4 linked regions of the Homo sapiens genome follow. The protein of the gene in region 2 purifies or fractionates together with the protein of the main gene of each other region. This does not show direct contact. Each region holds a gene or a part of one and is shown on either strand. Other genes may lie near its edges. The genes, in order: FMR1, WTAP, PAICS and CALD1.

Region 1 (7,028 bases), on a different chromosome or scaffold from region 2:
CTGCTGAGTGTTTTTGTTATATCTCTAATTCTTGACATCAATAATCTGTTATCTGTAGTAATTTTCTTTTTAAGGAGATCATTCAATTTCCTGATAATTCTGTGTAACAGTGTTTACTGTAAATTTAGAACTGAAATTGAAATATTCCAGTATATTTTTATCTGATGAAAAGGAGAAAGGTTTTATTAAGTAAAATGTCAAATTATTTTTACTGTTATCTTGTATATTTTAAATAGGAAGTAGACCAGTTGCGTTTGGAGAGATTACAAATTGATGAGCAGTTGCGACAGATTGGAGCTAGTTCTAGACCACCACCAAATCGTACAGATAAGGAAAAAAGCTATGTGACTGATGATGGTCAAGGAATGGGTCGAGGTAGTAGACCTTACAGAAATAGGGGGCACGGCAGACGCGGTCCTGGATATACTTCAGGTACAAACTAAGCATTTTACTCAGTAACTTTATCTGTTCCTAGACTTATAGCTGCTAATCTCTAATATTCATTAGAACCCCATTATAACAATTTGCCGCTACATGGTTTCCAATTCACAGTGGGTTAAATTGTGTTACAGGAGACATAGAGTAAAAACCTGATGATAAACACGTAGAGTTCACAGGGCCGGTGCAAGTTCTGTTCATGCTCTGATTGGGGGTAAATCTGCAAAGCCCTTGTGTGTTGATGATTTTCTTAAGGCCTCTCCTGATTTTATAACTGTATAGTCAAAACTTTTTTCATTTGTGTACTGTGGCTCATTTTTATTTTGTCAGGTATGTGCTGGTCATACTTGCTGGATGGACTGTGTAAATCAGGGGTCTGCCTCTTGTGGCTCATAAGGTGATTTTGAGTGACATGGCCAAAGTCAGCCCTAGGCACAGTCAAGAAGTAGGCGAAGTTTCTCTTTGCCTTCCCAGCTTTTCTGTCCGTGCTTCTTTCTTCTCTCCCAGTACCTTTCAGTGAACCTGATCCCCACCTGCCAGTGCCTACTGTCTTTCTTGCTCAACAGTGTATCTCCTTTGTAACTTGCTAATGATGGTATAAGGTATAATCCATTTCACGCATATTTGCATTTCAAAAAGGAACTCTTTAAGATGGAAAAGCCTTCAAGATCCACAGGAATGAAGCTATAATGGTGAAGCTATAATTGGTCATTAGCTCCAACAGAGGAAGAGAGAGGTAGTAGAGCTGATATTCTGGAGTTGGGGAGAGTTACCTACTCCTAAGGCCAACCTTGAACCTAACCCCTAACCCCTCTCCCAACAGTCTGTTCTTTTTACTCATGAATTTCTGCCTCACCGTGGAGCTCTTTTTCTCCGCTCCTGTCCTCTAAGTCGTTAACCCCTTCAGGCATAATGAATTTATTATAGTAATTCTTTATTAATGATCAATTATTGTAATGGGAGTGGGAGGGCAGGTTGTGGACCAAACATCAGGCAAGCATGTATCTGCCTTCAGCTAGATCCAATCCATGACCCACAAGAGACCCTTCCCTGAAGCAGTTGCCATGGTGGCCTCCTTTGCCACCCTCTCAGAAATGACCAAAATATATACATTCCCCTCTGTCCTGGGCCAAATCTTGCTAAAAGGAGCTCTCTTTTTAGAGGTTTTGTTTATCAGGGTATCACACTTAACTGTCGTGGATAATCTTTTCCTCCAGAGAGTATAGATGTTTAAAGGAACACAGCTATTTAATGATATGGCACATCAAGGTTTGAACTTAGGTGGCTAATAACATACCTTTTTAAAAATGAGAATGAAACATGTTTATAACCAAAATTAACCTCAAATATTGCAAAGCCCTTCATTTTGAGTTTAAAATTTTGTTTTATGAAATGGAAAGTGATAATACTCTTTGTGGGCTTATAAATTGGGAAGAGTTTTGGATTACCCCTGAAACGTCTCTGGAAGCTTCTGTTAACCCTCTTTTTTTTTTTTTTAAAGTCAGACAATGGTATATAACTTTTAACTCTCGATAGGAACTAATTCTGAAGCATCAAATGCTTCTGAAACAGAATCTGACCACAGAGACGAACTCAGTGATTGGTCATTAGCTCCAACAGAGGAAGAGAGGGAGAGCTTCCTGCGCAGAGGAGACGGACGGCGGCGTGGAGGGGGAGGAAGAGGACAAGGAGGAAGAGGACGTGGAGGAGGCTTCAAAGGTATGGAGATCTTCATTAAGAAATCAAAGTGAATTGTAACAGCTGTCTTGAAGTTCCATGAGAAATCCTATTGATGCAATGAACTGTTACCAAGATCCCATCTCTCCCGTTTTGTGCTGATACCATAGGAAAGGATCAGCCTTCCACTTGTGTAGAAAGAAAGAATATTAGGCAGCCTTCCTTATGGTTCATACAGATATATGAATAAATGCTGATAACTAATTCAGCATCTTGGTGGGTCTAAACAGCATCCCTTCATTAACTCACATTGACCTGTAGATGCAGAATTATAATAACTGTGAAATATTTTCTGTTACTTAGCAGCAGGCTAGATTATTAGCCATTGTGTAACTGGAATCACTGGGGTATTGATTACATTTCAGATTCTGTGGTTGGTTTAAATAGAGGGTGTGGGAATAAAGAACTTCCAGTAAGCATTTCAGAATCAGTAACTGTTGAACCTTTTGAAAATATTCTCATAGGAAACGACGATCACTCCCGAACAGATAATCGTCCACGTAATCCAAGAGAGGCTAAAGGAAGAACAACAGATGGATCCCTTCAGGTAAAACCTGTCTGCCTCTTTTCATCTTAATTGTTTGAATATGGTAGTTTGAGATTTATGAGTTTATTTTACTTTATTAAAAACATGTTCAAAGATTACAAATCCAGTTTATGTGAAATATTTTACCTTCAACATTACAATTGTAGTCAATCTTAGTTCTTTGTGACAAGTATACAAATAAGAGGATTTCTCTAGAGAATATGCAGTCTGAGTATTTGTGAAGACCTTGACAGCCACACTATGATTTTATTATTTATTATTTATTTTTATTTTTTTGAGACGGGAGTTTCGCTTTTGTTGCCCAGGCTGGAGTGCAATGGCGCAATCTCGGCTCAGAGCAACCTCTGCCTCCCGGGTTCAAGTGATTCTCCTGCCTCAGCCTCCTGAGTAGCTGGAATTACAGGCATCCACTACCATGCCCAGCTAATTTTTGTATTTTTAGTAGAGACGGGGTTTCACCATGTTGGTCAGGCTGGTCTTGAACTCCCAACCTCAGGTGATCTGCCCACCTTGGCCTCCCAGTGTGCTGGGATTACAGGCGTGAGCACTGTGCCCAGCCACACTATGATTTTAATACCACATTGGTAGACCTGCAATCCCCCAGAGAAGGAACATCCTGGGATGTACTTAGAGACCTCAGTAAACCTTATGTGTCTTTGCTCCCCCAAATTAACAGGGATAGGGTATTCTCTTTGAATAGAAAATAAGGAAAAGAAGGTGTCTGTCTTACAACTAATAATCATGATAGACAGAGCTGATGATATTCAGCTAGTCTCCATGCTTGGTCAGTCATCTGCTTATTTACAGCCAGGACCTAGTCCGAGGATCTCTTCTCAATTGGCTGTCACCAGTGCTAAACCAATTGTTAAATAATTTTAAAATTATCTCCTGAGCACATCCAGGCACCTTTGCTAAGTGCTTTGTGTATGTTTTATCTCATTTAATCTTACAGCAACCCACTGAGGTAGTTTTATTATTCCACTTTATAGGTGAGTGCACTGTAGCTTCAGTCCTTTGCCCACAGTCACATAGCTAGCATATGTCCAAATGATAGTCAAACCTTAGTGTCTGATTCTCTGAATCTATGTTGTCGTCTACTTTTTCTGTAACTTTTAATTATTAAGTAGTTAGGGTTCCTTCCTGACTATGGATTCATTTGGGACCATCACCCAAGATTAGTGAGAGATACTTTTTAAGACAAAGTTTATGATGGAATATTTCTTGGAATTCATAGCAGCTCAAAGTAAGTGTTAACTATTGGTGGGTTCTTAAGGACCAGCATGTCCAAGGGATAGATAGATTGGTAAATTACTGTATGTACCTGTCTTTTACAAAGCTATAAGATATTTAAGTACCCGTTTTGTAATTTTCCACTTAAACTGATATGTTTGATGAACTTGGCAGTCTAACTGCATTGGTTAAAAGGATGCACATTTATATTTCTAAATGAAATGGAATACTGAATTTAAAAGGTGATGTTTTCTCTATTAAGTATGAAAATAGATACAAATCTGGCCAGGCGCGGTGCTCACGCCTGTAGTCCCAGCGCTTTGGGAGGCCAAGGTGGTCAGATCACCTGAGGTCAGGAGTTCGAGACCAGCCTGGCTAACATGGTGAAACCCCATTTCTACTAAAAATACAAAAAATTAGCCAGACGTGTTGGCGGGCACCTGTAATCTCAGCTACTCGGGAGGCTGAGGCAGGAGAATCGCTTGAACCCAGGTGGCAGAGGTTGCAGTGAGCCAAGATCTTGCCATTGCACTCCAGCCTGAGCAACAAGAGCAAAACACCATCTCAAAAAAAAAAAAAAAGGGCCAGGCACGGTGGCGCACGCCTGTAATCCCAGCACTTTGGGAGGCCAAGGCGGGTGGATCACAAGGTCAGGAGATCGAGACCATCCTGGCTAACATGGTGAAACCCCATCTCTACTAAAAATACAAAAAATTAGCCGGGCATGGTGGCGGGCACCTATAGTCCCAGCTACTCAGGAGGCTGAGGCAGGAGGATGGCGTGAACCTGGGAGGCGGAGCTTGCAGTGAGCCAAGATCGCGCCACTGCACTCCAGCCTGGGCGACAGAGCGAGACTGTCTGGGAAAAAAAAAAAAAAAGATACAAATCAAAGTACTGAATCCTTGGTAACGAGACATTTAAAACACATGCACATACCCACTACTTAAACATACTTTGAAATTACAACCATTTGGGGATGTTTTTAGCATTTGTGCTTGAAGTAGATCAATATTTGTAGTTGTTTTAGTTCCATTTGTCACTGTTAACTTTCATTTGTACCTCTGGAATTAGCAGTGCTGTATTCAGCATTGGCACTTAAAATATTTTATAGCTCTTAGAACACTATTTTTTAAATTACATTGATCTTTATACTCTCCTAGGATTCCAGTCCTTCCACAAATTATTATATGCAGTTTTCTTTATACTGTTCCATTCTTCAGACAGAGTTCAGGTTGTAGGATCATCTGAATTTTCTTAGTGAAATACAAGCCAGTAGAAACCAAAGCTCGTGTTTTTCTACTGTATGACTATGGGAGCTCTCAGTATAGAGAAACTTGATCATACCTGTGATAGATATAAAGATGTAAATTAAAGTCTAGTTAGTGAGTTATTTGAGGGTAAAGCCAGAATAGGAAAACATTTTGTTTCTCTTTTCCTGGGCTTCACAATCTTTGGAGAATAACTAATTTTATTTTAACTCTAGTGTTAGAGGCATGTATGTCTTCTGGTAATCAGTAATAGTAATTCATTTTACCTGTTTGTTTCTCACTGTTTTATTCTACTTAGAAGAAGACATGATAGGATTGTGAGTTTTTCTCTAACTTTGGATGCAGTGAGATGACCAGTGTGTTCCAGTTAAAGAAGAAGAGTGTTTTAAAATCATAAACCAAATAAAGAATCCTACCTTACATTAATTTCTTGCACTTCTTCTGTTCTCATCTCCATTTCTCTTTTTAACATGTGGAATTTACACTTCAGGTTTAAATTTCTTGTCAGGCCAATTACAGATTACAGTAGGATATGGTCTGTGTATATAACAACTATAACTTGTTTTAGATCAGAGTTGACTGCAATAATGAAAGGAGTGTCCACACTAAAACATTACAGAATACCTCCAGTGAAGGTAGTCGGCTGCGCACGGGTAAAGATCGTAACCAGAAGAAAGAGAAGCCAGACAGCGTGGATGGTCAGCAACCACTCGTGAATGGAGTACCCTAAACTGCATAATTCTGAAGTTATATTTCCTATACCATTTCCGTAATTCTTATTCCATATTAGAAAACTTTGTTAGGCCAAAGACAAATAGTAGGCAAGATGGCACAGGGCATGAAATGAACACAAATTATGCTAAGAATTTTTTATTTTTTGGTATTGGCCATAAGCAACAATTTTCAGATTTGCACAAAAAGATACCTTAAAATTTGAAACATTGCTTTTAAAACTACTTAGCACTTCAGGGCAGATTTTAGTTTTATTTTCTAAAGTACTGAGCAGTGATATTCTTTGTTAATTTGGACCATTTTCCTGCATTGGGTGATCATTCACCAGTACATTCTCAGTTTTTCTTAATATATAGCATTTATGGTAATCATATTAGACTTCTGTTTTCAATCTCGTATAGAAGTCTTCATGAAATGCTATGTCATTTCATGTCCTGTGTCAGTTTATGTTTTGGTCCACTTTTCCAGTATTTTAGTGGACCCTGAAATGTGTGTGATGTGACATTTGTCATTTTCATTAGCAAAAAAAGTTGTATGATCTGTGCCTTTTTTATATCTTGGCAGGTAGGAATATTATATTTGGATGCAGAGTTCAGGGAAGATAAGTTGGAAACACTAAATGTTAAAGATGTAGCAAACCCTGTCAAACATTAGTACTTTATAGAAGAATGCATGCTTTCCATATTTTTTTCCTTACATAAACATCAGGTTAGGCAGTATAAAGAATAGGACTTGTTTTTGTTTTTGTTTTGTTGCACTGAAGTTTGATAAATAGTGTTATTGAGAGAGATGTGTAATTTTTCTGTATAGACAGGAGAAGAAAGAACTATCTTCATCTGAGAGAGGCTAAAATGTTTTCAGCTAGGAACAAATCTTCCTGGTCGAAAGTTAGTAGGATATGCCTGCTCTTTGGCCTGATGACCAATTTTAACTTAGAGCTTTTTTTTTTTAATTTTGTCTGCCCCAAGTTTTGTGAAATTTTTCATATTTTAATTTCAAGCTTATTTTGGAGAGATAGGAAGGTCATTTCCATGTATGCATAATAATCCTGCAAAGTACAGGTACTTTGTCTAAGA
Region 2 (7,028 bases):
TGCCCATAGATTTTTGGTGTCTCCAATGACCAGAATACTATCTTAGAAGACTTTAATAACACATAAGAAGACTTCTATATGTACCAAATGAAGGGAGAGTACACAAAGAATTGAAGAAACATTCAGATTTTAAAATCAGAAACAAGGATACAGCTGCCTCTAATTATTTTGTATAATTACACCGTAAGATTGAGCCTAAACTACCAGAGCTGGATGATCAATTATGTCACTAGATTTCAGATCTACGTAGACATAGTAAATACTACACAGTACACATCAAAGTTCTAACAATTAAAAAGGAGACACTAAAGAGGTTGCTGACACTAGGAAAAACAGTTCTATACACAGAGGGGACAAGAGAACAGAGATAAAGTCCTCAGATGGCTTTCCTAATCAGTGAAAGTAAAGCAATAAAGAGCAAATGTTCTTTTATTGATTACATCCTCAGACACCAAGATATCTGAAAAATGTCTGGAATTGATGAACTAATACTTATAAGGCATGAAAATTTCAAAAAAAACTTAAAACTTTGCCTTCTTGGCCACAAAAAACAGTCTAAATGAGACATTATCAAAATTTTTCATCTAGTATTCTTAAAGCTCAAAGCATACGTACCTATAAAAGATAAGCTCTTATATTTAGCATTAAATGTTTAAAATTAACATGTAATAATGTGGACTAAAAACCAATTCCTCAACTAAAGACATTTATATAACTTGAAATACTTACAGTACACTCTTGCATCTCTTGTTCCTTGGTTGCTAGTCGCATTACAAGGATGTTTTCCCTGCGTGCAGACTCCTGCTGTTGTTGCTTTAGTTTTTCTTCAGACTCTCTTAGGCCAGTTACATCATTAGCTGATGATTCAAAAAAAAATTATAAATACAATTTTAAGATCAAGTTCTAAATACCTCTGTCAAGAACAATAAGAACTAGGGTCAAAAAATTAATCAAGTCTTTAGTTTCCATCCTAACTACTTTTATAACAGGCGAATTTCTTCCTGGTCACGAGAGCTCCTTTAGGAGACAATGGTGTCATAGTGCTCCATGACTACTAACTAAATTATGTTTTTATAGTTTCATCTACTCCCAACAGAAGACAGAAAACATCTGTGTTATACAGTATTCACAAAATCCTGATTAGTATGTTTTAACCTATTTAATATAAAAATGCTGTCTGGGCACAGAGGCTCACGCCTGTAATCCCAGCACTTTGGGAGGCTGAGGCAGGTAGATCACCTGAGGTCAGGAGTTTCAGACCAGCCTAACCAACACGGTGAAACACCGTCTCTACTAAAAATACAAAATTAGCCAGTCGTGGTGATGCATGTCTGTAATCCCAGCTACTTGGGAGGCTGAGGCAGGTCAATGACTTGAACCTGGGAGGCAGAGGTTGCACTAAGCCCAGATTGTGCCACTGCACTCCAGCCTGGGCAACAGTGCGAGACCCTGTCTCAAACAAACAAATAAATAAATAAAATAGTAATAACTGCTGGACAATTTGTATTTTAAACTTGAGGCAGGATCTTATTCTGTTACCCAGGCAGGAGTCCAGTGGCACAATCAGGGCTCACTGCAGCAGCCTTGACCTCCCGGGCTCTAGTGATCCTCCTGACTCTTTTTTTTTTTGTAGAGACAAGGTCTCCCTATGTTGCCTATGCTGGTCTCAAACTCCTGGGCTCAAGTGATCTTCCCACCTTGGCCTCCCAAAGTGCTGGGATTATAGGTGTGAGCCACTGTGCCTAGCCTTAAACTTTCACAATGTTCATGACTTCTATGGGTAACACAGTCACGCAAAATTAGAATTTCAGGGTATTAACCCTTCTGAAGTTACAAAACAATATATATTGGTTTTTATACTCAACAAATAGTATGTGATTCAAACAGTAAAAAGTGAGACTAAAATGGCTTAAAATGATAAACGTTATTTTCAGCAGATTTAAAAAAATCTGTATATATTATTAAGTTATATATATTGATTTAAGCTGTCATAAATCTGTTACTGGTTGCTTCTGTTTATTTCTCTTCTAGACTAGTAACTCATGCTTCAAGTCAAATTCCTATGCAGAAGGGGTTAGGGACAAGTAAGAAAAGTTTCAAGTAGTTCTGAGTTACTGCATCTATATTCAGAACCTTGCATATAATTTTGCTAAGTCATGCCATTACATGACTATTACACCTCTGTCTTCTCCAATGACTGAGACTGTGTCTCATTCATCTTTATATTTTCTTGCACCCAACACAGTGCCTATGTACAGTTCTTATAATAAAACACGAGAAAAATTACATTTGCTTTAATAAAAACAACTATCCTTTTGATTTTAACAATCAAAAGGAGATTATTCAGTCTTTAGGAAGCTAAAACTCAAACTTACAGTTAAGATCTGTGTACTTGCCCTCCAAAGCTTGTACATATGCTTCATATTGTTTCCATCTAATAAAAAAAAATCCATACATTAGTTGTTACGATAAAATAGTTTATTAAATAAACTAGAAGATATCTATAAACTCACAGATTTTAGTAATACTGAGCATTCTTCTGGATTTTTCATTTTAAATCTAGTTTTTTTTAGACAGAGTCTCGCTCTGTCCCCCAGGCTGGAGTGCAGCGTGGCGCAAACAGGGTCTGGGCTCAAGCGATGTCCCTGCCTCAGCTTCCTGTATAGCTGGGACCAAAGGCACATGGCTCATTTTTTTGTAGAGATGGGGTCTCACTACGTTGCCCAGGCTGGTCTTGAACTCCCGAGCTCAAATGATCCTCACACCCTGGCCTCCCAAACTGCTGAAATTACAGGCCTGAGTCACCACACCCAGCCTAAATCTAGTTTAACTGATCATAAAATAGTCCCTCATTATTCCTTCCCATTTTACAGGAAACAGGTAAAAAGAGATATATAGAGAAGGTTTTTTCTGCTGAGAACATGCCAAGCATGCCCTGGGTGAGATCAAACCCCAGATTCACTTTGATATCACTGATGTTCAGGATAATCCTGGATTATAGAAGCTGAAAAAAAAATCCCACTGCTGCTTTCATATGTTGTCCACTTAGAACAAAAGGCATATTAGAAATGTGCCTCATTATGTAGAATTGAAGGTTCTTTATCTTGGCTCTTTTGGGAAAATACCATGTGACTCTTCTCAAGGTAGTATCAATTTCTGCCTGTAAACACAGGGGGAGAATATAACATTTTTCAAGACTGTAATTTAACAATCACATCTAACTGTCAGAAACCTGCATAAATGCCATATGCTATCAGAATACAAGGGGACCGTTGTTCTTCATTATACTTCTCTACCCTGAATATATACACTGCTAGGTCCTCTTAGCAATAAAGATTTTTCCTAGTCTTATTAGGCAGTTCCTAATGGAAAGCACCCTGCCCTGAATGTCTGCTATCCTGCATACTTAAGAGCCATGTTTTCAAGCTGCTCTTCAGGTACAATTAATTAAAATTTGGCTTTAGAAAACCATTTTATAATCTTAAAAACAGGCTTGTCATGAGTTATTAATATTACAACATAATGAACAAAAAGGCTCGTGCCTGTAATCCCAGCACTTTGGGAGGCCGAGGCGGGCAGATCATGAGGTCAAGAAATCAAGACCATCCTGGCCAACACAGTGAAATCCCGTCTCTACTGAAAATACAAAAAAATTAGCAGGGCATGGTGGCGCATGCCCGTAGTCCCAGCTACTTGGGAGGCTGAGGCAGGAGAACCGCTTGACCGGGAGGCGGCGGTTGCAGTGAGCCGAGATCGCGCAACTGCATTCCAGCCTGGTGACAGAGCGAGACTCTGTCTTAAAAAAAAAAAAAAGAAAGAAAAAAGAAAAAAAAAAAACCTTCCTAATACCAAACTAATCCACTTTCTATGTAAACACTGATGTTCAGCCAAGGCCATGCTTTATTTTTACGGCACTTACAACCTAAGACACGTAGTTTACCAAATATTTGGGGATGTATAGAGAAAGATCTTCAGTGGAGGCTATAAAAGAACGATTTATTTTAGAAGTACAGAAAAATATAAAAACTGAAGCAAGAACATGTATATCACAAGGATAGAAGGCACAGACTAGTTAAATAAGTAGCAGCTGGTTTAAAATCTCCAAGGGAATCAAAGAGAAAAAACTCGCCTAAAAGTCTTACATGAATTCCCTAAGGAAAGATGTTAAACTGACCTCAAGGAAATACACTGCATATGATTTAGAAACCTTAAAGGTATCTTAAAATAAAACATTTCTATGATTCTTTATTAAGATTACTGATTTTTCCCCTCCTACAGTTAAATCAAAAAAATGACTGCACAGACTAACCAGAGCAATTATGTAAGAAGGCATTAAAAAAAGTATACAATGCCAGAGACAGGGAAAAAAAAAATCATGGCCAGGCATGGTGGCCCATGCCTGTAATCCCAGCACTTTGGGAGGCCAAGGTGAGAGAATCACTTCAGGCCAGGCATTCAAGACCAGCCTGAGCAGCACCTCACCTCTATTATAATTTATATGCACATTAAAACAAACAAAAAAAAACCCAGCATTGAGTAGTAGTGTATCTTAAGTATATACTTCAGCATAAGACAGAAGTGTTTTAGAATAACAAAAATTTAAATTTTATGTGCAGAAAGACAAAGGTATGCAATGGAAACTGTCCTATGTATGAGATTATGGCAAAAAAAAAAAAAAAAAAAAAAAAAAAAAAAAAGGTAAAAAGTGTGTTCATAATACAGTAGCTGTCCAAAGGTGAAAGTAGGAAATTGTCACACTCTAGGAAACAACAAAATCTGTGTTAGCCTATCTCACAAAACATCTTTTCTCTCCTCCGCTTTCAGCCTGTTAAAATACTTATTTTATTTTTATCTAAGTTATCAAGAAACTTACTAACCATAGCAATAAAATACAGAAAGAATATATTTAAATTACAAAACACAGAACATCCTACTTCCTGATTTCTTACACAATCTAAAAAGATTATACGTTGTACTTGACAATCTGCTTTTGTAAGACATTTACAAGATAACCGCAGAAATTCAGAACTGGAAGTCACCTTTAACAATAACTTAACCCAACCTCTTCAACTTACAGATGAGAAAATGAAGAGTATGAAGTTATATGAGCTGGTGAAGGTCACACTAATAAGAAAAAGTAACCTCACTTCATTAGTAAATTATGTATTTCTTCCATAAATATAAGTGCATCTTTTAGGATTACATTTCTTTTTCAAATGTTAAACACGAAAGGAAAAACTACACAAAACAAGCCATATATTTGTTAAACTTATAGCTTCCTAGTAGTTCTTTAAAGTGTTACGTTTTCCTCGGTGTTAATATAAGAAATAGGTCATAGTATGCTCAAAAAGTACATTAAATTATTTGAGGATAGAACAACATTAAAAACAATATCTGGCACAAAGACAATTACAGTGTAGAGTCACAATATAATGTTCTATAGAAAGACTTTGTTTTTGAACAGAGAACATTTTACCTTAGAATTAACTCATCTCTTGCCATAACTTTGAAGTCTGTTTCACTCAATCGAACCTATAAAGAGAATTACAATATGAATTTAGTGTTCTTCCTGAAGACACAAAGTTCTATAATGAGACCTATGAAACATCTCCCAAGTGTGAGATTTAAACGGCTCAGTACATATTATGATTTTTTGAAAAAGTATTTTATTACAAAAGTTTTTTTTTTTTAAGGTAAACTATTTGGTATCTTAACAATGGGCATCATCATTAGGAAAATGCACATTAAAACCCCAGGTATCACCACACACTGATTAGAATGGCTAAAATAAAAATTAGTGGCAACACCAAACGCTGGTGAGGATTCAGAGAAACTGAAGTTTCCTACACTGCAGGTGAGAATATAAAAATGGTATCTGAAGAAGTATGGCAGTTCCTTTTATTAATACAACTAAAAATGAATGTGCCATATAACTCAGCAGTTGCACTCTTAAACATGTATCTCAAAGAAATGAAAACATGCAAGCAGCTTTACTTGTAAAAGCTAAAAAACTGAAAACTATCCAAATGTCCTTTAACAGGCAAATGATTGAACTATCATACAGCCACACCATGGAACACTTTAAGCAATAAAAAGAAACAGGACTACTGATACATGAAACAATTTGTATAAGCCTTAAGGAAACTGTGCTAAGTGGAAGGAAAAAAAATAGTCTCAAAAAGATGCATACTACATGATTACATTTATATAACACTCTGAAGTAACAATTATACAAATGGAGATAAATTAGTGGTTGCCAGGGGTCAGGCATGGAGAGGGACGGGGTAGATGTGGCTATAAAAGAATAACTCGATGAAGCTTTATGGTGATAGTTCAGATATGTATCTTGATTAATGATGGTTACACAAAGCTAGACATGATAATAGTGCATATAGCTCTTCCCCACTTCCCCCAATAACAGTGCTAGTATAACGTGAAATGTGAATAAGCTCTGTGGATTGTACCAATGTCAATTCCCTGATTTTCACAGTTATTAGAGATGTCTGCTAGTCACGCAAGGTGTTAACAATGAAGCAGGCTCAGTGAAAGTTGCACAGAACCTCTCTGTACATTTATTTGCAACTTCCTATGAATCTATAATTATTTCAAAACAAAAAGCTGAAAGAAGGGCATAAGCTAACATGCTTCAAAAATTGAGAAACAGTATATTCACTACACCAAATAAAGGCTGTAAAGGTGAGATACCTCTCCTACCTCAGTATAAAATTAAGGCTTTGGCTGGGCATTGTGGCTCATGCCTCCTGCACTTTGGGAGACTGAGGCGGGAGTATATCTTGAACTCGGGAGTTCAAGATCAGCCTGGGTAACATGGCAAAACCCCATCTCTACCAAAAAATACAAAAATTAGCCAGGCGTAGTGGCACACCTGTAGTCTGAGCTACTTTGGGGGGCAAAGGTGGGAGGATCGCATAAGCTGGGGTATGAGGCCACAATGAGCCAAGATTGTACCACTGCACTCCAGCATGGGCAACAGAGTGAGACTCTGTCTCAGAAAATAAAAAATAAAA
Region 3 (7,028 bases), on a different chromosome or scaffold from region 2:
AATGCTACACAGTTTGTTTGGGATGATGAAAAAGTTCTGGAAATGGATAATGGGATGAATGTACAACATTGTGAATGCACATAATGCCACTGAATTGGACACTTAAAAATGGTCAAACTGGTAAATTTTATGTATTTATCACAATTTTCTTTTAAAAAATATCAGGAGCCTATTTTATGGCAGATATTGTTCCAACCATTTTAAATACATCTTTTTTGTTTAATCCTCATAACATTTGATAAGATACTATTAAGATCAACAAAACAGGTAAGGACACTAAGACACAGTAGTAATGTCAGCTAGTATTAGGTATAGCAGGATTTCCAACCTACCCTGTCTCTAGGAGCCGCCCACTTAACCACTTTGCTGTATTGCCTCTCCTGGAAGTGTTATTACATCACAGTACAAAGTAATGCTACAGCATTAACATGATTTAAAATATCTCCTGGAAACCTACATGGGTTTGAGATAATGCTTATTTTCAGCCTGCATTACTATTTCCAATCCCAACCTAATCCTCTAGTCTAACTTTTATTATCAGGAAAGAATTGGGGATCTTTGCTGTTATATGTGTATCTGTACATGAAGGGAGCTTCTATTTATGGAAATCCTCCACTGTGCTAAGTGTCTTATATATGTTGTCTCATTTAACTGTGCATAAAATTTTGAGGTAGGTTTTTTTGTTTTTTTGGTTTTTTTTTGAGACAAAGTGTCACACAGGCTGGAGTGCAGTGGCGTGATCTTGGCTCACTGCAACCTCCGCCGCCTGGGTTCAAGAGATTCTCCTGCCTCAGCCTCCTGAGTAGCTGGGATTACAGGTGTGCACCACCACGCCTGGCTAATTTTTGTATTTTTAGTAGAGACAGGGTTTCATCATGTTGGTCAGGAACTCCTGATCTCGTGATCTGCCCACCTTAGTCTCCCAAGGTGCTGGGATTACAGGTGTGAGCCACCGCGCCTGGCCTTGAAGTAGGTATTATTATTTATACATTTTACAGTGAAAAAAACAGAGGCTCAAAGAAGTAATTTCACACACTAGGTCATGTAGCCATTTGGTAATGGAGCCTGGACTTGAAACGCACTGTCCAAACCCTACACTATTTCCTCTGCCCTCTCTTTGAATCTGACTCGTAAGACTCAAATGAAAAAAAGAAAGAATTGTGGTATGTTGCATGAACAGAAACCCTAAGGAAAAAATGAAAAGAGGGGAAGTAAAACTGTCATTTTAACCTTTAAAAAAAAATTAGATGCAATCTGTTGTTTAACTTTTAATGAATGATCAGGCTCATGGATAGACAGGTGACTTCAATCAATTCTCAACTTGGGGTGGTAACTACATCCTTGGTTTCAAGAGCTCTTCTCTCTTAGATCTGTTAATCATTAGTCACATATTTGCTCATTTGTCTACCAAGCTGGACACAGTAGTATCCAATTTTATTGTTTTTAATATAAAGATAACTTCGTCTTAGAGAGATCCCCCCGCCAATCCCAAGGAGAACCAAAAGCACATAATGAAGCTACAGTAATCATCTCTGCACAAAAAATCCCTAAAAGTTTCTAAAACAGACTCAGTTTAGATGACATAATGATGGCTTCTAATACTGCTAAATATGAAAGCAAATTCCATGACTGTGCATGGTGAGAAAAAAATTCCCATTGTTTATCTTAGTTGTCTACAAAGCTCAAAACTCTCATTCAGGTTACTAAAAAATGTTTATGTCACTGACACACTCTGGATTACAATGAACATATATTAGCTAGAATAGTAATTCTAGCTAATACATATGTCCCCGTGGCCATCCCTCTTTTAGATTGGTCCAGATGCCCATCTGTGGTTTAGCAACTGTAGTACCGTTCTTCATATACTAGTATTACACTTAATGTAATTATAGTGAGTTTCTGTGAGGAAATTGGGATTTCATCATCACTAAGAAGGCCAGATTTTAATTTTTAAGTAATAAAACCAAATCCACAAATTGTATAACACAGTTATAACACAGTTATACTATTTCCACGGAAAAAGATTACTTCTTATTTATATAGTCCTTTACAGTTTGTTCCTGAGTGACAATGAGAAAAGTAGAATCCTGATTTTCTGATTCTCATTCCAATGCTCTTTCCTCTCTACTTTCTACCTTAATTTGGAACACAACCCAGGTTGTAAAGAAAACAGTTTTAAATAGACCACTGATGGCCAACTAGATAAGGCATTTATTTGACTAAGCAAGTAAAAATTACATAAGGTTTAATGGAATTCCTAATATGTACCCTAAAACTAGTCTGTTTAGAAATTTTAAAAAATTCAGGTTTACTTAGTTTCATAGTACTAGACATAAAATCTGGAAAATATCTTTCAACATTTCCTGTGAACCAGTTAAGTTTTAGCTATGTTAAGTGCCAAATAAAGTAGTTTAAAGATAATTATTGGAGTATTTCATTTAGGTAACCATCCTTCCCTGTTCCCCTGATCACAGGACTCTTCAGAATTAAAGCAGAAAGTCCTGGACAAACATAACACAACTGAGTCACTCTAATTTACTTGTTATAAAGTTCTGGAAATGGATAATGGGATGAGTGTAAATACACTCAGAAAATACACTAAATAAGCAAATAAAAAGTCAGGCTTTATCTTCCATTACTTAATATAATCCTGTAGCTATGTGAAACTACCAAGGGTACACAGAAAGTAATCTTCTGACTGCTAACATTTTAAAGAGTTAAGCACTTTAAAAAATGTTTAAGTGAATGGGGAGAGTTAAAACTTGGGAAGAAAAAAAAAAATCGATGGAACAGGCCGGGTGTGGTGGCTTACGCCTGTAATCCCAGCACTTTGGGAGGCCAATGCGGGTGGATCACTTAAGGCCAGCAGTTCGAAACCAGCCTGGCCAATATGGCAAAACCTCGTCTCTACTAAAAATACAAAAATTAGCCGGGTATGGTGGCGTGCACCTATAACTGTAATCCCAGCTACTGGGGAGGCTGAGGCATGAGAATCGCTTGAACCCAGGAGATGGAGGTTGCAGTAATCCGAGATTGTGCCACTGCACTCCAGCCTGGGCAACAAAGCAAGATTCTGACTTAAAATAAATAAAAAAATAAAATAAATAAATAGATGGAACACTTATCGGTATTGCAAAAGGAACCCAAAATTAATTTGATGCTCTCTTTAGAAATTACCTCAGTCATTGGGAAGCTACCAATCAAGAAACCTTGAAATAAAAATCTTAGATTCTGTGACTTAGGAACTCTGGAAGATCCTTTAAATTTACAGCAATACACTCACTTTCACAGCATAGAGGAATTTATGATGTAGATGACAATCCAGGTTTGCAATTAAATCTTTTTCACATTAATCAAAATTGTGAAATAGGATACTTTGGAAGAGACAAAACTACGCCAAGAATGCACTGACAATGTATTTAAATTACATTACCTTGTTATTTTGTGGAAGGCACGTACATCTAACTTAACTGAAAACAAAAGCATTAAATCCCCTGTTGAATTTAAGAAAGATTAGTGCTACCAGAAACTCTAAGAAATGAAAGGGCAACTGGGAATATTGGAATTAAAAGTAAGGAAAGTTATTAAATTATAAAATTAGAATTGGCAAGAATGATAAAGAAAAAGCTTTTATTTCATAGGTAAGGTTTCGTAGGTTGAATGATCCAAAGCAATGAGGCTATTTACACTGTGTGGCAAGAGTTCAAATCTTTTCCTAGCTGAAATTTCATATACTACAGACCAACCAGCAACTGACTGAATCCCTGCAGAAAACCCCTTTATCCTAATTTCCTTCCCTTTGCTTCAAATACCCACCACACAATGTTCTGATCTTCATTTGGTCTTTTGAATCTATTTCTCTATTGAAAATAGAGCCTTCATTCAGTTTTTGAACAGGAGGGCGCTCTGGGGTTTTAGTTCAAATATCTCACTTGGGGAATGGCAGGAGGAGAAGGTTTGGTTGCTGTCTTCAACTACTTTTCAGGGCTTTCAAGTGGAAGAGGAATTTGAAATTCTGTATTATCTCCCAGAGGCAGAACAAAGACCATTTGTATAGAATTACAGGGAGTAAATTTCAGTTCTTCATGTTAGAACTGCTTAACATTAAAATGGGTTTCCTTCATAGTTAAATTCCTTAAAGTGAAGATGGCCTTGGAGAGGTAAGCTGCACAGAGAGTGCATGTGCCAGATAAAGATTACAGCAAACTTGTTAAGATTCCTTTTAATTCAATGATACTAATAATCCCAAACCAAATAAGGTGTTATAGTGAAGTTTAAGGGTTCTTGGTTTGATTTAAATTCACTTAGCTTTTGAGACATCTGCAAACAAGTTGTTCATATTAATGCCAACTTCACATGAAAGACATCGACATGCTTACCAGAGAAGGTGAGAGAAGAGACTTTGAGGGAGCTGCTTACCTGCTTCCTGTAATAACTGAAAAATACAACTGGTGATTTTATTTGAGATTGCAGCTTTTCCTTCCAGGTGGTTTTTTCTAGCTGCATTTCCTGCTGTAATCTGGTCCTTGGACTGCAGGAGGACTTTTCCTGGACTGTCTAACAATTCGTAGACTTCTTTTGTTTTACCCTCATATAATTTTTTACCAATGTTCAGTACTGTGGAAATAAAATGGAAATAGACCAAAATTCAGAAACTTCCTGAATGCTGAAGACTAAATCACCTAGAACAATTAATCTGTAAATATACAGTGATTAAGTAATATTAATAAAAATTAAATCATCTGTATAAAACCATATACTCTACAATGTATTTCTCATACCATCACATTTGATTCACATGATCTTGTGAAGAATTTTAATTACATAAATAATTGTAGAAATTAGTAAAGCAGAAATCAAAAGGGTTGAGGGTCATGCAGTTAGGAAATATAAGAGGTAGATAAAATCCTAACTCCTCTGACATCAAATCCTGTGCTCTTTCCACTATTAACCTGCCTCTCATAGCAGAACTGAACTAGAATTAAAATTAATTAAGACCCACTTAAAGTAATGTAACTATACTAGTATTTTCACAGACACACTCACAGTATAGTATCTAAACTATCTTGCAGGAAAAAATATGCGATTTTTGCTGATATTTGCTTTTTTGTAGGCAAAATGGGAACATTCAGCCAGATGAGTTTCTTGATTTCAAGTTAATATTCAAGAGGAGGCATGCCATCCCATTGAAGTTAGCACATTTGGAAGCATCCCTCTCTATTTCTTAATCCTGTCCCTGCCCCCATTAATCCTTTCTCTTCACTAACAGTTGTAAGAAATTGTGAGGAAGTGAGCACAAAGGAATCCAATTTTGATGCTGGTCACAAAACCTAAGAAGTACACAAAAGGATGATTTAGAGAAAGAGTAAAGATAACAGATGTTTAGGAACTTAAAATTTCGAAAGAGAGAAATCAACCCTCATACTTCCACAACACTCTCAGTATCAACATTTTCCCGGTGTATCCATGTGCCAAGGGATGTACCAGTAAATAATAATTCCTGCTCTCAAGAGACCTGAGTCTGAGGGGAGCTGATATTAAATAAGACATCATAATAATAGAATGCAATAAATACAGACTATGGGACTAGTCTAGACATTAGAAAAAGAAGTCTACAAGAAAGTGACAGGTTGAAATCTGAAGAATCATCGAAATTTAGCCAAAGGAGAGAAAGGGGTAGGTAGTGTTGATGAATAAATACAAGGTGGTCAAAGTGGATTGCAGAACTTCAGTCTGGTTGGAGCTGGAGCTCTGGGTATATGTACATTGCTGTTGGGCAGGGGAAGGGGTGGGGGCTGCAGCTAAAGAATGGCAGGAGACAAGACTTAAGAGTTGGACAGGGGCCACATCACCAGCTAGTGGAGGTAACCATTAAACAAAGTAGTTGTAATTTAGTTAACAGTTGCCACTGTAGGGCACCTAATTTAGAGGATGAATCTCTACCCTCCCTAATGTAATGTCTAGACTCATTAACATGGTTTAAAAGTCCCTTTAAGATACAGCCCTGGCTTACTGCTCCAAACTCTTATTTGTCTATTTCCTATCTAGAACTCCAACATCTTTAATTCTTATACAATCTTCCCCTAGCTTCTGACAATCTCTTCTTTCCTAGGCCTGGAAAACTTCCCTTCCATTTTGCTACACATCCTTCTTGTTTCACAAGCCATGCTGATTGAGTTTAGACTTTAACCCAAGAAGAGCTATAAGGCTTTTAAGTGCTAAAGCAAAACGCTATTTGGAAAGATCATTACGGCTTCTGTATGGACAATGAAGGGAGGAAGGGGTGAGTGAACAAAAACTAGAGCTTGGAAGACCAGTTAGGATGCTGTTGCAGTAACTTGAACAAGAAACGTCTGGCCAGGTGCAGTGGCTCACATCTGTAATCTCAGCACTTTAGGAAGACAAGGAGGGCAGATTGCTTTAGCTCAGGAGTTCAAGACCAGCCTGGGCAACAGGGCAAAATCCCATCTCTACCAAAAAAACAAAAATTAGCCCAGCATGGTGGTGCATGCCTGTAGTCTCAGCTACTTGGGGAGGTCGAGGCCGCAGTGGGCCAAGATTTGCACTATTTCACTCAAGCCTGGGTGATAGAGTGAGACCCTGTCTCAATAAAAAAAAAGGAAAAGAAAAAGAAATGTCTTGGTCTAAGGAAAGAGTAGTGGGCAAAGATGCAAGATATTTAAGATAGTAGCTTTGAGAATTCATCATGGAGGATAAAAGAGAGGGAAGGGTAAAGAACAGTGGGCCGGGAACAGTGGCTCATGCCTGTAATCCCAGCACTTTGGGAGGCCGAGGCGGGCGGATCACTTGAGGTTAGGAGTTCAAGACCAGGCTGACCAACATGGTAAAATCCTGTCTCTACTAAAATTACAAAAATTAGCCGGATGTGTTGGTGCACGCCTGTAATCCTTGCTACTTGGGAGGCTGAGGCAGGAAAATCGCTTGAACCTGAAAGGCGGAGGTTGCAGTGAGCTGAGATGGCGCCACTGCACTCCAGCCTGGGCAAGAGAGGGAGACTCCGTCTCAAG
Region 4 (7,028 bases), on a different chromosome or scaffold from region 2:
TGTGTATATATACGTGTGTGTGTGTGTGTGTGTGTGTGTATATATATATATATATATATATACACCACATTTTCTTTACCCACTGCTTGGTTGATGGGCATTTAAGCTGCTTCCATATTTTTGCAATTGCAAATTGTGCTTCTATAAACATGCGTGTACCAGTATATTTTGCATATAATGACTTCTTTTCCCCTGGGTAGATACCCAGTAGTGGGACTGCTGGATCAAATGTTAGTTCTACTTTTAGTTCTTTAAGGAATCTATACTGTTTTCTGGTAGGTTATATCTTTAAATAAGGAAAAGTATTTACATTTATTCTGTAGGGTGTTGCTATCTGTTTTGAACTGAAGATATGTTAGTTTAGTAGAGTCCTCCATGGCTACCATTAATAGGTAACACGTGAATTTTTAAAGTGGGCATGAATTGCAGATGTCTTCTTTTTTCTAATATACAGCCTGAATCAATAGTCTCTGATCATTATAATATTCAACAAGATACAGAATTCCGCTTAATTTAATGTGATTATTCAAACACACTTAATGAGTTTGCTATTACGTATTTTCTCACTCGGGCCCTGGTTGAAATCAGGGAACTTGAGAATGCCTAATAGGTTCAACTTCTTCAAAGAGGGCTTTTGCAGCAGAAATAAGGTCACATGGTTCATTATGCTAATGGTTAGTATATGTCATTTATATTGTCATTTATGTGCCCCAAGGTCTAAAAAAGATGAGGATATTTGAGGAGGAAAATGGAGAAAATAATTTTAATTTAAAACCATGGACTGATTATAATGGTTACACTATATAAGATCTCACATGTGGTTTTGGTTTTAGTTTGTTTTGTTTAATTCAGTCTATTTAGAAAATTCTAAAGGGAATGGGTCCTGGCCTCCTTAACCCAAGTTTGAGAGGCTGTATTAGAAGGTTTCAGAAAGCAGTCTTGAAAATGTTGGCCGGTAGCACAATATTGTTTACCCTTTCCCTCAATAAGTAGCTTCTAATTGGGGAGTAGGTATAGCAAAGGGGAAATAGGTATAATTTCTAGGGTTCACTAATTGACTTTGACTCCCAATTTGACCTTTCACTAACTGTATTTCTTCAGTTAAATGGAAATAAAAATTATACCTTTCTCCAAAAAATGCTGCTAAACTTAAACTATGTAACAATACATGTAAAATGCAGTGTCTTACACATAGTAAGCACTCAATAAATTTTCACTGTTACCAGATTCTTAACACGGGAGGGCAACGTAGTCATTCACTGCCTTTTCCATTTTCAAGCTGAGAGAGAAATAATAGAAAGAGTTTTAAAAATGGCATTTTGATGCCTTTCCTGAATCTTGTTATTAATGAGTGGTCAACAGGAGCTTTAAAAATTACTGGTGATCTGTAGTTTTCTTGCTTTTAAAATCTTGCTTTTCCTTGTGCTTCTCTTCGGATATTTGGCTGTTATTCATTATTTCATGCTATTAATTGAAATCAAATTCTTTTTTTTTTTAGAAAATCATATTGAGGTCTGAGAATGTGTGATTTATCTCTGACATATTAGTTAGCCACAAGAAGAATAAGTCTTCTTGGGGCTAAACAACTCTAACTGGCATTTGATATCTACTGATAATTGTGGTCATGATTTATAAATAGGCAAAGAAATGTTCAATACAGTTTGTTGGTTTCTTAGCATAAGAGTACTTTAATCTGGCTAGCACTTTGGAATTTTGGTGCCTTTTAAAAATTATTAGAATTCAATTGATCCAAATGGCCCCTCTATAGACTTCCCCTTAAATTATAAATTTTTTGCATTTGTAGGGACATTTAATCCTTATATGTCTAATTTCATGGAGGCAATATCCTGAAGCAAAAGTAAAGGCCAAGAAAGTTTTAAAGCTAGTTTTTACTCTGCCATTTTCATTGTTAAATATGAAATGTGTTTTTTCCAAAATTAAGTGAATTTGAACGTTGAAAGGGCCAAGTTTGGTCTGAACTATGAAATTTGATGGAGTTTCTAAACATTGCAAGACAAATTCTTCCAACTCTGGTCACAGTTCTGGTATCACATGACTGGTTGTTTCCTGCAAATAGAAACCAACACCCTGGCTTGGACAGTGTCCAGCATCCTGCAGTAGTGAGGGAGGTGATGGACAACAGTTTAACTTTTGGAGATTTTCTTTCCTTTTTAAAATAAATGTCAAATTTAACTGCCCTTTTTCCACTGTAGAAAAGATGGACAAGAAACCCTTTATTCATGGAAATCTTGACAAAGAAGGTAGATTGTGTATACATTAGTTAGGGTAACGCTGGCTGCTATAACGATTAGTGCCCCCAAATTTTAAGTTTAGTGCAGTAACACTTACCATTATGCATATTTCTGTCTAGTTGGTAGAACCAGCCACCTGTCTTCTTTTCTCTTGTGACTCTCAATCCCTAGGGCTTGGTGCTCCCTGATCTACCAACAGACAGAGATAGAGAAGACAGGGAGTGCACCTCTGTTTGTTCATTGCCTTGGTTGGACACTTCTGTTTACATTTCATTGGCAGTTATTGGTCACATGGCCCGCCTAGGTGCAAAGAAGGGAGAGGGTGCAAATTTAATCCTTGAGTGGTGATCACTCCCCCCAACTATGGAAGGAGGAGCAGGAATTGTAAGGGACACTTAGATGTCTCTTCCATTGGGGTCACTGGCGTGAGTGTGGAATCTCAACACTGTAATGTACATTTTCTTCCTCTCAAAGTACCTTGGGAGCCTCCAATCCAGATCAGGAATTCTAGATGACTTGATGACATGGGAGAATACTACATGACATGGAAGGAATTCACTTATTATTTCAGTTTGATCCTTAAGTTTGAATTCCCCAAGAAGCAAGTCCAGAAACAACGATTTGACTGCAAGTCGTTTATTTGTAAGGTGATGCTAGGAAACACTGGTGGAGGTGTGGGAAGGTAAGACAGAAAAGGGAAGGCCACCAAATAAACGTTGCATGACCAAGCACATCACCACTGTGGGTATCTGGAGCTTCACTCCACTGGGAAACTCTGAGATCCAGTGTGGAATACACACCTCGGAGTTATCCCACTCAAAAAGTGAGGGGTGCTGAGGTATCTAAACACTCAGGCTATCAATTTTTGTTTGAAAACTGCTCCCAGGGGACATTAATACCGAAAGCACTTCTGGCATGTTGAGTAGACTCCAGTCCCCAGAGAAAGGCTTGCAAATGCTGTCAGCTGAAAGCCAGGCAGGCGTGTACTAAAATGGTAACGTACTGGGGATATGGGCAAGCTTGGCACTACTGGCATCTGCTGTAGTCCTGGGTAGCACAGGCTGTATGAATGCTGCTGACTGATGAATGAGCAAGCTGTCTTTGGTGTTGTTCTTTCTGTTGTACAGTGTGCCTGACGAGGAGGCCAAGACAACCACCACAAACACTCAAGTGGAAGGGGATGATGAGGCCGCATTCCTGGAGCGCCTGGCTCGGCGTGAGGAAAGACGCCAAAAACGCCTTCAGGAGGCTCTGGAGCGGCAGAAGGAGTTCGACCCAACAATAACAGATGCAAGTCTGTCGCTCCCAAGCAGAAGAATGCAAAATGACACAGCAGAAAATGAAACTACCGAGAAGGAAGAAAAAAGTGAAAGTCGCCAAGAAAGATACGAGATAGAGGAAACAGAAACAGTCACCAAGTCCTACCAGAAGAATGATTGGAGGGATGCTGAAGAAAACAAGAAAGAAGACAAGGAAAAGGAGGAGGAGGAAGAGGAGAAGCCAAAGCGAGGGAGCATTGGAGAAAATCAGGTAGAGGTGATGGTGGAAGAGAAAACAACTGAAAGCCAGGAGGAAACAGTGGTAATGTCATTAAAAAATGGGCAGATCAGTTCAGAAGAGCCTAAACAAGAGGAGGAGAGGGAACAAGGTTCAGATGAGATTTCCCATCATGAAAAGATGGAAGAGGAAGACAAGGAAAGAGCTGAGGCAGAGAGGGCAAGGTTGGAAGCAGAAGAAAGAGAAAGAATTAAAGCCGAGCAAGACAAAAAGATAGCAGATGAACGAGCAAGAATTGAAGCAGAAGAAAAAGCAGCTGCCCAAGAAAGAGAAAGGAGAGAGGCAGAAGAGAGGGAAAGGATGAGGGAGGAAGAGAAAAGGGCAGCAGAGGAGAGGCAGAGGATAAAGGAGGAAGAGAAAAGGGCAGCAGAGGAGAGGCAGAGGATAAAGGAGGAAGAGAAAAGGGCAGCAGAGGAGAGGCAGAGGATAAAAGAGGAAGAGAAAAGGGCAGCAGAGGAGAGGCAAAGGGCCAGGGCAGAGGAGGAAGAGAAGGCTAAGGTAGAAGAGCAGAAACGTAACAAGCAGCTAGAAGAGAAAAAACATGCCATGCAAGAGACAAAGATAAAAGGGGAAAAGGTAGAACAGAAAATAGAAGGGAAATGGGTAAATGAAAAGAAAGCACAAGAAGATAAACTTCAGACAGCTGTCCTAAAGAAACAGGTACAGTAAACATTTTGCACCAAATGTGTGATGCCTGTGACTTGTGAGAAATGTAATGCACATCTGATTTGGGACTGAGGCCACATGCATATAGCTCACATGCTTGATCATTTGGCAAGCTGTTCATTTTTTCAGGCCATAGCGATACACAAGCATGCAGCAATTGATTGATGGCTGAATATTCAATCAACCAAATTTACTGGGACAGCCAGTAAATTTGGCTGTCCAGAAGACAGAGAGAAATTAATTGCTCTGTGCTTGATTGTTATGAATACCCAAAAAAAGAATTAATCCAAAGATGATAAATGTGGTGGTGGTGTGTTGGCTTCTGATTCTGTGCTTGCATCTAAACTCGTTCTTTTAATTATCTTTCCTCTATCCATAGGTCTGCATGAGGCAAGAGGCCCATAACTCCTTACCTCACTCATGGGTTTGACGTTGAATTAAAAAAATGATAAAAGCTGGGGTGGGAAAGAGACATGAAGAATAATGGTCAGACATTTCATCTTAAGAAGGCAAAAACAGGCTGGGTACAGTGGCTCACACCTGTAATCCCAGCACTTTGGGAGGCTGAGGTGGGTGGATCACAAGGTCAGGAGATCGAGACCATCCTGGCCAACATGGTGAAACCCCATCTCTACTAAAAATACAAAATTAGCTGGGTGTACCGGCACATGTCTGTAATCCCAGCTACTCAGGAGGCTGAGGCAGGAGAATCACTTGAACCTGGGAGGCAGAGGTTGCAATGAGCTGAGATTGTGCCACTGCACTCCACTGGGCAACAGGGAGAGACTCCATCTCAACAACAAAAACAACAACAACAACAAAAAGGCAAAAACAAACCCCTGGAAATTAACTGGTAATAAAGAGGGGGAAAGGAACTGGTTGGAAACTTTCCTTAAAAAAAAAAGTCAAAACCCTGATTTGCCAACATGTAGACCTCAGCTTAATGTAGACTTGCAGAAAGCCATTAATTTAGGGTAGTATTGATTTATATTTGACTGGTAATTAAGAGCATACATGCTGCTTCTTTATTATCTGGGTGACACAAATTCATGTGGCCTGAGGAAGGGTGGAAATAGTAGGGGGGAAATGTTTGTAAGCTTTGAGAAAGATTTTTTTTCTGTCTGCAAGACTGCATTGAAAGCACTGTACCTAATCACCACCACACCACCACCACCACTCCTAAAAAAAGAAAAAAAGAGATGCTTTCACATTCACCTTTCCAGAGCAAATTCTCTGTCACTAAGCCTGCATTGCACTGAAGGTATCTTTAACTCCTGCTTCTGTACAAGAGGCTCATGAACACAGCTAAAATTGAGACCATGAGCAAAGTGCACCAAACCACACACGAGGTTTGTAAACACACGAGGAGTGCCACATCATGCTAGATTTCAGTGAGCGCAATGGCAGGCACACGAGAAGATGTTGGGGTGGGAAGAAAATATCCCACCTTGCTGTTTAGAACCACTGTGCTGTGAGCGCTGAGACGGCAGAAGAGAAGCCATCCCACGCAGCACTTGCAAGGCGATCCGAGCACCCTGTCACTCTTGTAAACTAGAAAGGGCTTCTTTTACTTGTGTGACCTTACCATTCTTGAAAATAAAAAGGGAGAAGAGAAGGGAACTAAAGTGCAAGCTAAAAGAGAAAAGCTCCAAGAAGACAAGCCTACCTTCAAAAAAGAAGAGGTAAATATGATTGAAAAGTAATGATCGTAAAGCAACAGAAAAAGCAGTCAGTGTTCCAAGATATCTCAGGTCTGATGATCTCAAAATTGTAACCTCATATCCAGTGTATTTCAAGCCATGACTCACAGTCCACTGAATAGTGAGATCAGCTTAGAGTGTCTCAAAATTAATTAAATGTATCAGTCAGCATTTTTTAAAAAATGAAATGGATAGAAGCCATCAGAGGGCATTGTAGGTAGTAAGTATTGCATTGTCAGGTAAATTGTCTTTTTTTCTGTGGGACGTCATCAAAAAGGCTTGAAAAACACTGCTGGAATCAATTTATCCTGTTTTCTATTCTTCTGAATGCTAATTTTTTTTCCTTGAGCCATTCTACTTTCATTTCAATCATGAAATATTTCCAACTGGCCTTGATTAATGCTTTAACTTTTCAAAGGAAAAACACCCACACACATCTCAGTAGAAAATATGGTGAACTGAAGATGATATTTGGTTTTCAAAAGAAAAGTTTGGCCAAATGTTCTGCATTGCATTTCTGAGGCACACACAGGAGCGGGTGCCAGGGTATTTGACTGTAGGTAAGTGAACAAGGAGCTATACAGATAGAATGGCACGGGGTTTGACAGTAATCAGAACACCACATCAGAACACTTGATTGCACTTCAACTCTCATGCTGTGTTTGCCCCAAATAATCTTAAAAATTGTGACTATATCGAATAAGTTCACAATACTTATTAGGATGTGGTGAAACTGAATTATTTGAAGTAGGAAGACCCGAAGTTCTTCGCCTATGAGACTGGTGAAGTGATTTGTAGCCAACATGCTCCAACCCATCTATTAAGAAAACTATGGCATCTATTAAGAAAATTC

Evidence for each region.
Region 1: the proteins of WTAP (region 2) and FMR1 purify together in Homo sapiens (affinity purification with mass spectrometry; 2 studies listed by BioGRID). This does not show direct contact.
Region 3: the proteins of WTAP (region 2) and PAICS purify together in Homo sapiens (affinity purification with mass spectrometry; 2 studies listed by BioGRID and IntAct, with this or other methods). This does not show direct contact.
Region 4: the proteins of WTAP (region 2) and CALD1 purify together in Homo sapiens (affinity purification with mass spectrometry; 2 studies listed by BioGRID and IntAct, with this or other methods). This does not show direct contact.

What each region holds. Positions count from the first base shown.
Region 1 is NC_000023.11:147,942,895-147,949,922, forward strand, and holds part of FMR1 (fragile X messenger ribonucleoprotein 1), read left to right. Parts: intron 1-236; coding exon 237-432; intron 433-1,974; coding exon 1,975-2,157; intron 2,158-2,639; coding exon 2,640-2,722; intron 2,723-5,788; coding exon 5,789-5,950; 3' UTR 5,951-7,028.
Region 2 is NC_000006.12:159,737,494-159,744,521, reverse strand, and holds part of WTAP (pre-mRNA-splicing regulator WTAP), read right to left. Parts: intron 5,533-7,028; coding exon 5,477-5,532; intron 4,664-5,476; exon of another isoform or gene 3,080-4,663; coding exon of another isoform or gene 3,075-3,079; intron 2,435-3,074; coding exon 2,376-2,434; intron 858-2,375; coding exon 730-857; intron 1-729. UniProt on the Homo sapiens protein: Associated component of the WMM complex, a complex that mediates N6-methyladenosine (m6A) methylation of RNAs, a modification that plays a role in the efficiency of mRNA splicing and RNA processing.
Region 3 is NC_000004.12:56,439,252-56,446,279, reverse strand, and holds part of PAICS (bifunctional phosphoribosylaminoimidazole carboxylase/phosphoribosylaminoimidazole succinocarboxamide synthetase), read right to left. Parts: intron 4,618-7,028; coding exon 4,420-4,617; intron 1-4,419. UniProt on the Homo sapiens protein: Bifunctional phosphoribosylaminoimidazole carboxylase and phosphoribosylaminoimidazole succinocarboxamide synthetase catalyzing two reactions of the de novo purine biosynthetic pathway.
Region 4 is NC_000007.14:134,929,609-134,936,636, forward strand, and holds part of CALD1 (caldesmon), read left to right. Parts: intron 1-3,379; coding exon 3,380-4,469; intron 4,470-6,079; coding exon 6,080-6,157; intron 6,158-7,028. UniProt on the Homo sapiens protein: Actin- and myosin-binding protein implicated in the regulation of actomyosin interactions in smooth muscle and nonmuscle cells (could act as a bridge between myosin and actin filaments).